Linked DNA regions of Homo sapiens: region 1 is linked to region 2. A link means that fine-mapping ties the variant in region 2 to the expression of a gene that starts in the linked region. Tissue or cell type: whole blood. Region 2 holds a variant in brackets; the other region holds the start of a gene. All regions are shown on one strand. Distances are from middle to middle.

The links. PIP is the estimated chance that this variant, and not a neighbour inherited with it, causes the effect.
Region 1: it holds the start of ATP13A5-AS1, and the variant in region 2 is fine-mapped to the expression of ATP13A5-AS1 in whole blood (INTERVAL, PIP above 0.99).

What each region holds. Positions count from the first base shown.
Region 1 is chr3:193,305,358-193,309,602 of GRCh38, forward strand. ATP13A5-AS1 (ATP13A5 antisense RNA 1) reads left to right here and starts at 1,887. Exons shown (of 2, transcript NR_046758.1): 1 at 1,887-2,043. ATP13A5 (ATPase 13A5) reads right to left here. Exons shown (of 30, transcript NM_198505.4): 22 at 1,970-2,012; 23 at 202-311.
Region 2 is chr3:193,281,261-193,285,505 of GRCh38, forward strand. It overlaps ATP13A5 (ATPase 13A5), which reads right to left. Exons shown (of 30, transcript NM_198505.4): 27 at 3,654-3,856. It also overlaps a transcript of PLAAT1 not described here. Among named protein-coding and RNA genes, the nearest start is that of ATP13A5-AS1, 24 kb to the right of the region's middle. The variant TAA/T (reference allele first, on the strand shown) is at 2,168.

The DNA of each region.
Region 1 (4,245 bases), 24 kb after region 2:
GGCTCAGCAAAAGTCACTTTTCTGTGGCTTTTACCAGCACTCTTGAGTAACACTAATGGCCCCCTTCATTGGTTCTCCAATAGCACTTCACCCATTCCTCTGTTGCAGCATTTATCACTTTAGCTTGTAGTTGAATTCTGTCTGCAGAGCCAGACAATGGGCCCATTGATTGTAGGGCTGGAAGAGGAAAAAATGACTTACCTGATGAGATGAGGCACACACTGGATGTTGGTTGTTTTAGAGGTAAAAGGGGATGCCACAGATGCTTCCTGCTCTGATAATGAAATGCCTGCATGAGCCGCTTTCAAAGCCTGGAATGATAAGCCCATGTCTCACCCATGACTTTTCAGGTTAGGCTTTACCTCTTAAAACACCAAGAGGCTGTTCTTCACATCATAAAGGTATAACACTGTACTGTTTCATCTTTGGGTCTCTGTTTAATGCTGTCCCTCCACCTGGAGTGCCCTCTCTCCCCTGATCCACAAAGTCACTAACTAAACAATGACCCAGAGGTAGAAAAGTGGTGTGTGTACATGCATGCGTGTGTGCATGTGGGCATGTGCATACAAGGGCCCTGCCTGTGGGGATTATAGATGTGAAAAGGAGATGGAAGCCCTCATTCAAAAACTCAATTAAAAAGATGACAGAATTTGGATGGACGTTGGTTGGGGACCTTCACCGTTTCAGTTCTTGTACCTGGTGGGAATCTTCATGAACAAAGGTGAAAGAATTCCTAGGCCGATCCTATAAGAATTGTGTGGGCATAAAATGAACTTTTATATATCTGTAGTTCCACAGAACTACAGAGTACCTGGCGCCATGAGTACATACTAGATTCAGGTTTAATAAATAATAGGACATTTTCTTCTTCCTCTTTGATCTCTAGTTCGTATCTCTATTATGTACTTTAGGACCATCTACTTTATGTTAGGGTTAGTTTTATTCATGATTCTTTCTTCATCAGACAATGAACTCTTTAGGAGGCAGAGACTATGTCCCTTTTTGCATTTGATTTTTTTGTTTTATTCTAAACGCCACATAATTAATGTGAGAGGATACGTATTCTAGATTTGAAAGAACAGACTAAAAATTAGCTTTTTCTCATGAAACATAAAGCAAAAAACATCTCTAGCTATAAAAATTTCTAGCTATAAACACAGTTTTCACAGAAATTTGGAAATAATATTTAAGAGAGAAATAAAACAAATACCAAGATCTTAAATCTCTAATAAGCTTTGGAAATACAAAGAAATCTTCCTCACTTCTTGTCCCATAAATCAGCTACTGAAATATTTCCTTAAGTACATAATCTTGAAGGTAGACTATTTGTTTCCTTCATGTCTTTAAAACTCAGAATATAAAACATTCACTGCCCTTCTACTGCATATGAAAAATAATTTGCTGATAATCATTTTATTTAGCTTTTTCTATAGCATAAAATAACTAAATAGTTTGGTCTAGGATTTTACTGAGTGAAAGAGTTCTGGGTGAAGCAAACTTAAAAACTAACCAGAGAATGAAAGTTTGGCAGGAATAAATATAATTTACATATAATTCAAAACTTTAATCATCAGTTTCAAACTTCGTTTCATTGAGTCTTTATCAGTTGTGTGACCTTGGGAGGGGGGAAGAAATCACCTCCTTGAGAAATCATTTCATTACTGATAACAGGAAAGATTTAAAGCAGATAGACTTGTAAAGTTCCATCTTTGGAACCTGAAATATGGGAGTCTAAGTAGCCTTCCTTTGTGTTTATTATTCTAGGAGTTTCCAGAAAGCATCGGAAGTGTCTCATCTCCCTTTACTCCCCTCCGCTTCCAACCCACACTCAGGTAGAGGTGGATATAAACAGCAAAATAATCAAATGGTTGCTGGTGGAAGGATGAAGAGACAAACCCCAGGAGAGCCTGAGGTCCTCCAGAGGGATATTAGTGAGTGGCTTGTCTGAGCAAAAGCCATTTCTACTCACCCCACAGTCGTTAGCTCCATCTCCACACATGCCCACATAATAACTGCGGGAGACAGGAGAAGAAGGATTAATAGGTAAGAAAAATGAACAGCTCACTTGAATATTTTCCATCATAACTAAGTCACATGTGATTTGTGTGTATGTGTGTGTCCCCTGAACACACCTGGAATCAGGCTGAAGAAAAATGGTTTGGAGAGACATATTCCCAGAGGGAAAAGGCAGTTGCGTTATTTAAGTTGTTTCAATCAATCACATTGAAATGGTAGTGATATAACCAAGGACATCGGCAAAACAGTGATTGCACACTTTAAAAGAAGTCCTGCTTGATGATACGCACCAAGGCCAAGCTTAAGAGTATGCAGTCATGAGCAGAGCACTTCCCACACAACCTAATGCAGAGATCATAACCCAATCCAGCTGCATTTTAGTCACTGACTGTTGCTGAGCATTTACAGCTCAAATACCAGGATGAGAAATTTCAAAAACAGTTTAACAGATATAACTAGAGACATATATTCATATTTTTGATGCATGTCAGGGTGAAAATAAGATATGTTTTCCATCTATATCAGTTTGGTGTGCAAGCACAATACAAATAGAAGAGTAAAAATTAATACGGCTGCCAAAGAAAAGGAGTTTCAGATGTAAGACACTGCCTGCCTTCTATTATAAGTTATACATTATAAGTATTGATAAATGACAATATTCTTAAAGACTTAGCTGCATTTTTCTAAAAACAGAGTTATGAAATCAATAAGGAGAAAAAATAAAGTTTTGTTAGCGTTTCGTTATTATTAGTTAATGCATAAGAAACAACCACTTTTATAGGTCAAAAACAGTTAATTAAATGTGGCCAGGCACGGTGGCTCACACCTGTAATCCCAGCATTTTGGGAGGCTGAGGCAGGCGGATCTTGAGGTCAGGAGTTCGAGACCAGCCTAGCCAACACAGTGAAACCCCATCTCTACTAAAGATAGAAAAAATCAGCTGGGCATGGTGGTGTGCTCCTGTAATCTCAGCTACTTGGGAGGCTGAGGCAGGGGGATTGCTTGAACCTTGGAAGCGGAGGCTGCGGTGAGCCGATATTGCACCGCTGCACTCCAGCCTGGGCAACAAAGCGAGACTCTGTCTCAAAAACAAAAAAAAGTCAAATGTAGGCACACCCCTATGGTTCAATCCGATACTGGGCTGTGTAGATGAAAATAATCATGCTATATATGTTCATGTCATGACTACCCACAATTGTTGAAAAATGGCTCCTTCTTTCAGGCTTAAAGCACATATTTAGTCTCTATATCACATCAAGAATCTTATCATCTTCTAGTATTCCCTGAATTCAGAAAGAGAATGCAGACAGCCTTATGCACATTGCCAATGACAAAGGCATGAGGAGGAAGATTGGGATGTTGAGAAGACAGCTCATTCTGAGGCAGTGTGTGTCTTCCTGAATTCATTTTTTAAGGGGAATATGGCTTTTCAAAGTTAGGCATTTTAGTTGGCAAAATTTCTCAGGCATTTGAAAAAGGTAAAATTACTTTCTTCAGCAATATCATGTAATGATCATGTGAATGAAATAGTCATTTAGTCACTGGTTACTTACCCAGCCTCAGGCATTCTGGAAGTTAATAGGCAGTTTGTAAGACTTCCCTATGAATGCTTGGGTAACAAAATCTAACAATAAAAGGGTGTCTCCTGATTTCACCAACAACTCACCAGCCATCATCTAAAGATTCACTACCCTATGTTCCTTTTCACTTCCTAGACTCTGCAGCCCCAAACTGTTACATTCCCAGAAACCAGTAGGTAGATCTGGTCTCAAGAAGTACCATTTCACTATAAGGTAACTTGGTCATCTTTATTTTTGAAGGGGGTAATAAAGGACTTTCTCTTGACTTTCCCTGCTGGGGCCAGATAAAGGCAAAATGCTATTTCACCTCTTGCTAAGAAGACCAGAAATTATTCACATATCTTCTAATGGACCAACCTAAAATAATTCCAGGGTATAACGCACCTACTTCCCCATTTTTCTGATTCTAAGCTATACAACCTGCCCCACTATTTCTGCTACATCCAAGCATGGGAGGGTTCTCTAAGATATATGCCTTATGGCCCACAGAACAAATGCTCTCTGGAATAGGTAACTTCTAAATGGCCCTCAGCGATCCCCAGCTCCTGGCATCCACGCCCTGTGTAATCCACTCCCCTGGACGTGGGCTGGATCTAGTGGCTTACTCCTAAGGAAGGGAATACGGCAAGGGTGATGAGACTGGCATATA
Region 2 (4,245 bases):
CTAGACCTCACTAGCAACTGGGGCTGAGTGGGGTGCACATCACTGTCTAATGGTCTAAAAACTAGGTCTCGCCTGTGCACAAGTGAGCAATGTAGAAACAAAATTATAAGGTCATCTTTTAAAATTCAGCTTTGATTGAAAAGATGTAATAAAGATTTGAATGTTGGCTCTTCTTGGTTAGTTGCTGCTGCTGAGGAAACATGAAAGAATAGGGCTCTGTTAATGCAGGTGCTTTAGGAAAGCAAATCCTGTGTAAGCCATTACACTTTATTTTCAGGTAAGGTTAGTAATGTTCACATTTGTTTCCAGAAAAGTTAAGCCTCTACTTTTTCATAAAGTTGAGCTTCTGTCAAAGGCTGTTAAAAAGGGCAAAGAGTTTTCTGTTACATCAAAATAAAGTTGCTTGTATATTTTAATAGTAGTTCTAGAGGCTTTTGACTTATAACCTGAGAGTATATGTTTGTTATCTTATTACATTTGTTAGCATACCTGTATGCTAAAATGTAAAACATTTTACATTTAAAATTATCAGTTATGTCTGGTATAGGGGTTTGAATTTACCCACAAGCTTTAAGTCACTGTGAGGTAACTACCTCTAATTCACTCAATTCATGTAAAAGGACTTTGCAGCTACTATTAAAATTAAAGTACTAGGCCAGGTGCAGTGGTTCACCCCTGTAATCCCAGCACTTTGGGAGGCCGAAGCGGGTGGATCACGAGGTCAGGAGTTCAAGACCAGCCTGGCCAAGATGGTGAAACCCCGCCTCTACTAAAAATACAAAAAAATTAGCCAGGCGTGGTGGCGGGCACCTGTAATCCCAGCTACTTGGGAGGCTGAGGCAGAGAATTGCTTGATCCCGGGAGGTGAAGGTTGCAGTGAGCCAAGATGGTGCCACTGCACTCCAGCCTGGGTGAAAGAGCAAGACTCCATCTCAATAATAATAATAATTAAAGTACTAGGCAACAAATATATTCTGCTTGTAAAATACATTTATAATTTTAAAAATTATTCATGTATAACAACATACATTTCCTGTGTATTAGTAATAATTCGTTAATAAATATAATGGGAAAGTCATTCACAATATAAGCAAAAATATAAAATACAAAGGATTAGTTTCTTTTTTTTTTTGAGACGGAGTCTCGCTCTGTTGCCAAGGCTGGAGTCCAGTGGCATGATCTCAGCTCACTGCAACCTCCGCCTCCTGGGTTCAAGCAATTCTCCCTGCCTCAGCCTCCCAAGTAGCTGAGATTACAGGTGCCCACCACCACCCCCAGCTAATTTTTGTATTATTTAGCAGAGATGGGGTTTCACCATGTTGGCCAGGCTGGTATTGAACTCCTGACCTCAGGTGATCTGCCCGCCTTGGCCTCCCAAAGTGCTGGGATTACAGGCATGAGCCACCGCGTCTGGCCCAATTAGTTTCTTAAATAAATGTGCAGGCAGGATTTGTAATGGAGAAAACAACGAATATTTGCTAAGAGACCTTAACAAAAAGCAAGAATAAATGGGGAGACATGACATGTTCCTAAATGGGAAGATTAAGTTATATACCAATGTAAATTCTTCCCAAAGTATCAAAATCCCAAAGGGAAATTTTAAAAGCCTGGCAATTTATTCTAGAGTTTATCTTAAAGAATGAACAGGAAAGAAATAAATACATTTTTTAAAATGAGGAATAATGAGGATACACTGATCTTGCCACTTATTAAATAAAACTTATTATAAAACTATAAGTTTTAAAGTATAGTGGTAAATCAAGAATAGACTGATATTTAAAAACAAAAAAGATAGTATGGAAACTATATAGACATACACATACAAACAATGCATAATATAAATGATGTACAGACAAACACATATATGAAGATAGGATGAAGGTGGTATATTCAGTGGAAAAATAATTGAATATTAAAAACTCAATAGTCAATAAAAGCTGCTAGAAAAACCGGTTGACTAGTTGGAGCAACTTGTTTTAATCCCTACCTCAAACTATACACCAAAATTAACATTAGATTTTAAAAGCACTTTAAAACTAATTGTGATAATCTATCCTATTTCATAATTAGAAAAAACTTCCTGTGCATAAAGACAATGGAAAAAAGATCACAAAAAATAAACAGCTCATACAAATAAATGAGAAACAGCAATCCAACAGAAAAAAAA[TAA/T]GTTTAAAAATGTAAACACACAATTCACAGAAGAAGAAATTGCTAATGACATGAAAATACGTTTCTCCTCACTGGTGATCAAAGAAATGCAAACTAAAACCAAATAAGACACTGTTTTCTAAAATCTTATCAGACCAGCACAAATTTTGTTTTTTAACTAGTACTTCCTGTTGGATATAATATTAAGAAGCACACCCTCTCCAAAACAACTGATAGAAGTGAAAATCAGTACAAACTTTCTAGAAAGCAACTTTAAATTGTGTATTCCAGGCTTTGACATTTTCACACTATTTTACCAGTTAACTGAATTTTCTTATCCTAAGGAAATAAGAGGCTAAGTCAAAGTAATTTACACAAGTATACTTTTATAGCATTATTTATCATACTGAAGCCAATTGCTTGATAGGGTGACCATCTTTATCATGCAATATCTGGATAGGTATCATGTATCTAGTTTGCCTTGACATTCTCTATTTAAGCCTGGCATAATTATTAATAGTGTCTCACTTCACTCCTAAAGAGTGTCCCAGTCTGATCAGTAATGATGGGGCATATTCTCTGGCTTCTTTGGCCTGCGGATTATTATTATTATTATTATTATTATTTTTTGAGACAGAGCCTTGCTCTGTTGCCCAGGCTGGAGTGTAGTGGTGTGATCCTGGCTCACTGCAGCCTCGACCTCCCAGGCTCAAGCAATCCTCTCACCTCAGCCTCCCCAAGTAGCTGAGACTATAGGCAAGAGCCACCATGCCCAGCTAATTTGTAAAAGTGTTTTTTTAGAGACAAGGTCTCACTGTGTTGCCCAGGCTAGTCTCAAACTCCTGAACTCAAGTGATCCTTCCACCTCAGCCTCCCAAAGTGCTGGGATTACAGGAGTGAGCCACCACTCCCAGCCTTAGCTGGGAGGACCTTAATTGTAGCTTTGAAGAGTTTTTAAAAAACTCTACTTAAATTAATACACAGGGAAAGTAAGTAAGATTTTTTGAGCCCCTATTATAAGTGCCAGACCCTTTACATAAATTGTGCTAGGCCCATTCCATAAAATGCTTTGTTTAGTCCTTCCCTCAGGACTTAACAAATTAAGGATACTCCCTCCCATTCTACCGATGAGGAAATAAGGTCATAGAATGGTTAAAGTAACTTGCCCAATGTTATAAGGCTAAAGAGGTTAATTTGCATTTGAATTGGTTAGAAAGCCTTTAATAAAATATCTTCACATGCATGTATGTGTTTAAAATGATTCTTGATGACTCACAATAGGACAAGACTCATGTGACAGTTAAATAATGTCTGTGCTTATCTGCAAACAAGCAGATTTTCTGCATGTGGGCTCTACCAACGATGACCACTGCATTCAACAACAATTTTAGAGTCATGCAATTGTTTCTTCCTCAGCCCATCATTTCACCAGTGAGGTACAACTCTAGGGTGAGAAAGGGAATGGGAAAATATTCAGAAAGAAAAATTAAACTTTATATACTTACAGTTTGTATAGATGGGTTTTCGAAATGGCTTTCCCTTAGAAAAGATGAATGCTACTGTGATATAGTTGATGGTGGTGATGGGCCACAGTGTGGTGGTCTCAAAACTTAAAATTGAACCAGGAATCAGAGTTGCATTTCCAGTCCAGTTTCTTTCCAAACTCACATTTGTTGAAAAATTACTTTGGTTGGCCAGAAAACACTCACTACAAAAGAATCACCAGTGTTTATGAAACATTTGATTCCATTTTTGTCCATTAGGTGAAAAAAAAAATAATTTAATCACTACCATGGGATTTTAGCTTTCAAACTATGTCAGCCAGTAACTACCAAGACATACTTTGTTCACCTCTTGCTATGACAAAGCAGAAATAAAAGGAAGTCAAGATTGTTCTTTGTCTGGCACTCCGTTTAGAACAAGTGATCTACCTTGAAAGGGCCTGGATGACAATATTTTATGAATTCCTATCAATTCAAAGAGTAAATAGACCATGTCAATTAAACTGTGTGTGTGTGGTTTTCTCTTTCGTGGACTAAACAAGACTCCTAACTTGAGTTTTGAGTTTGAGTCTGCCACTCCTATTTACTTCCCTCA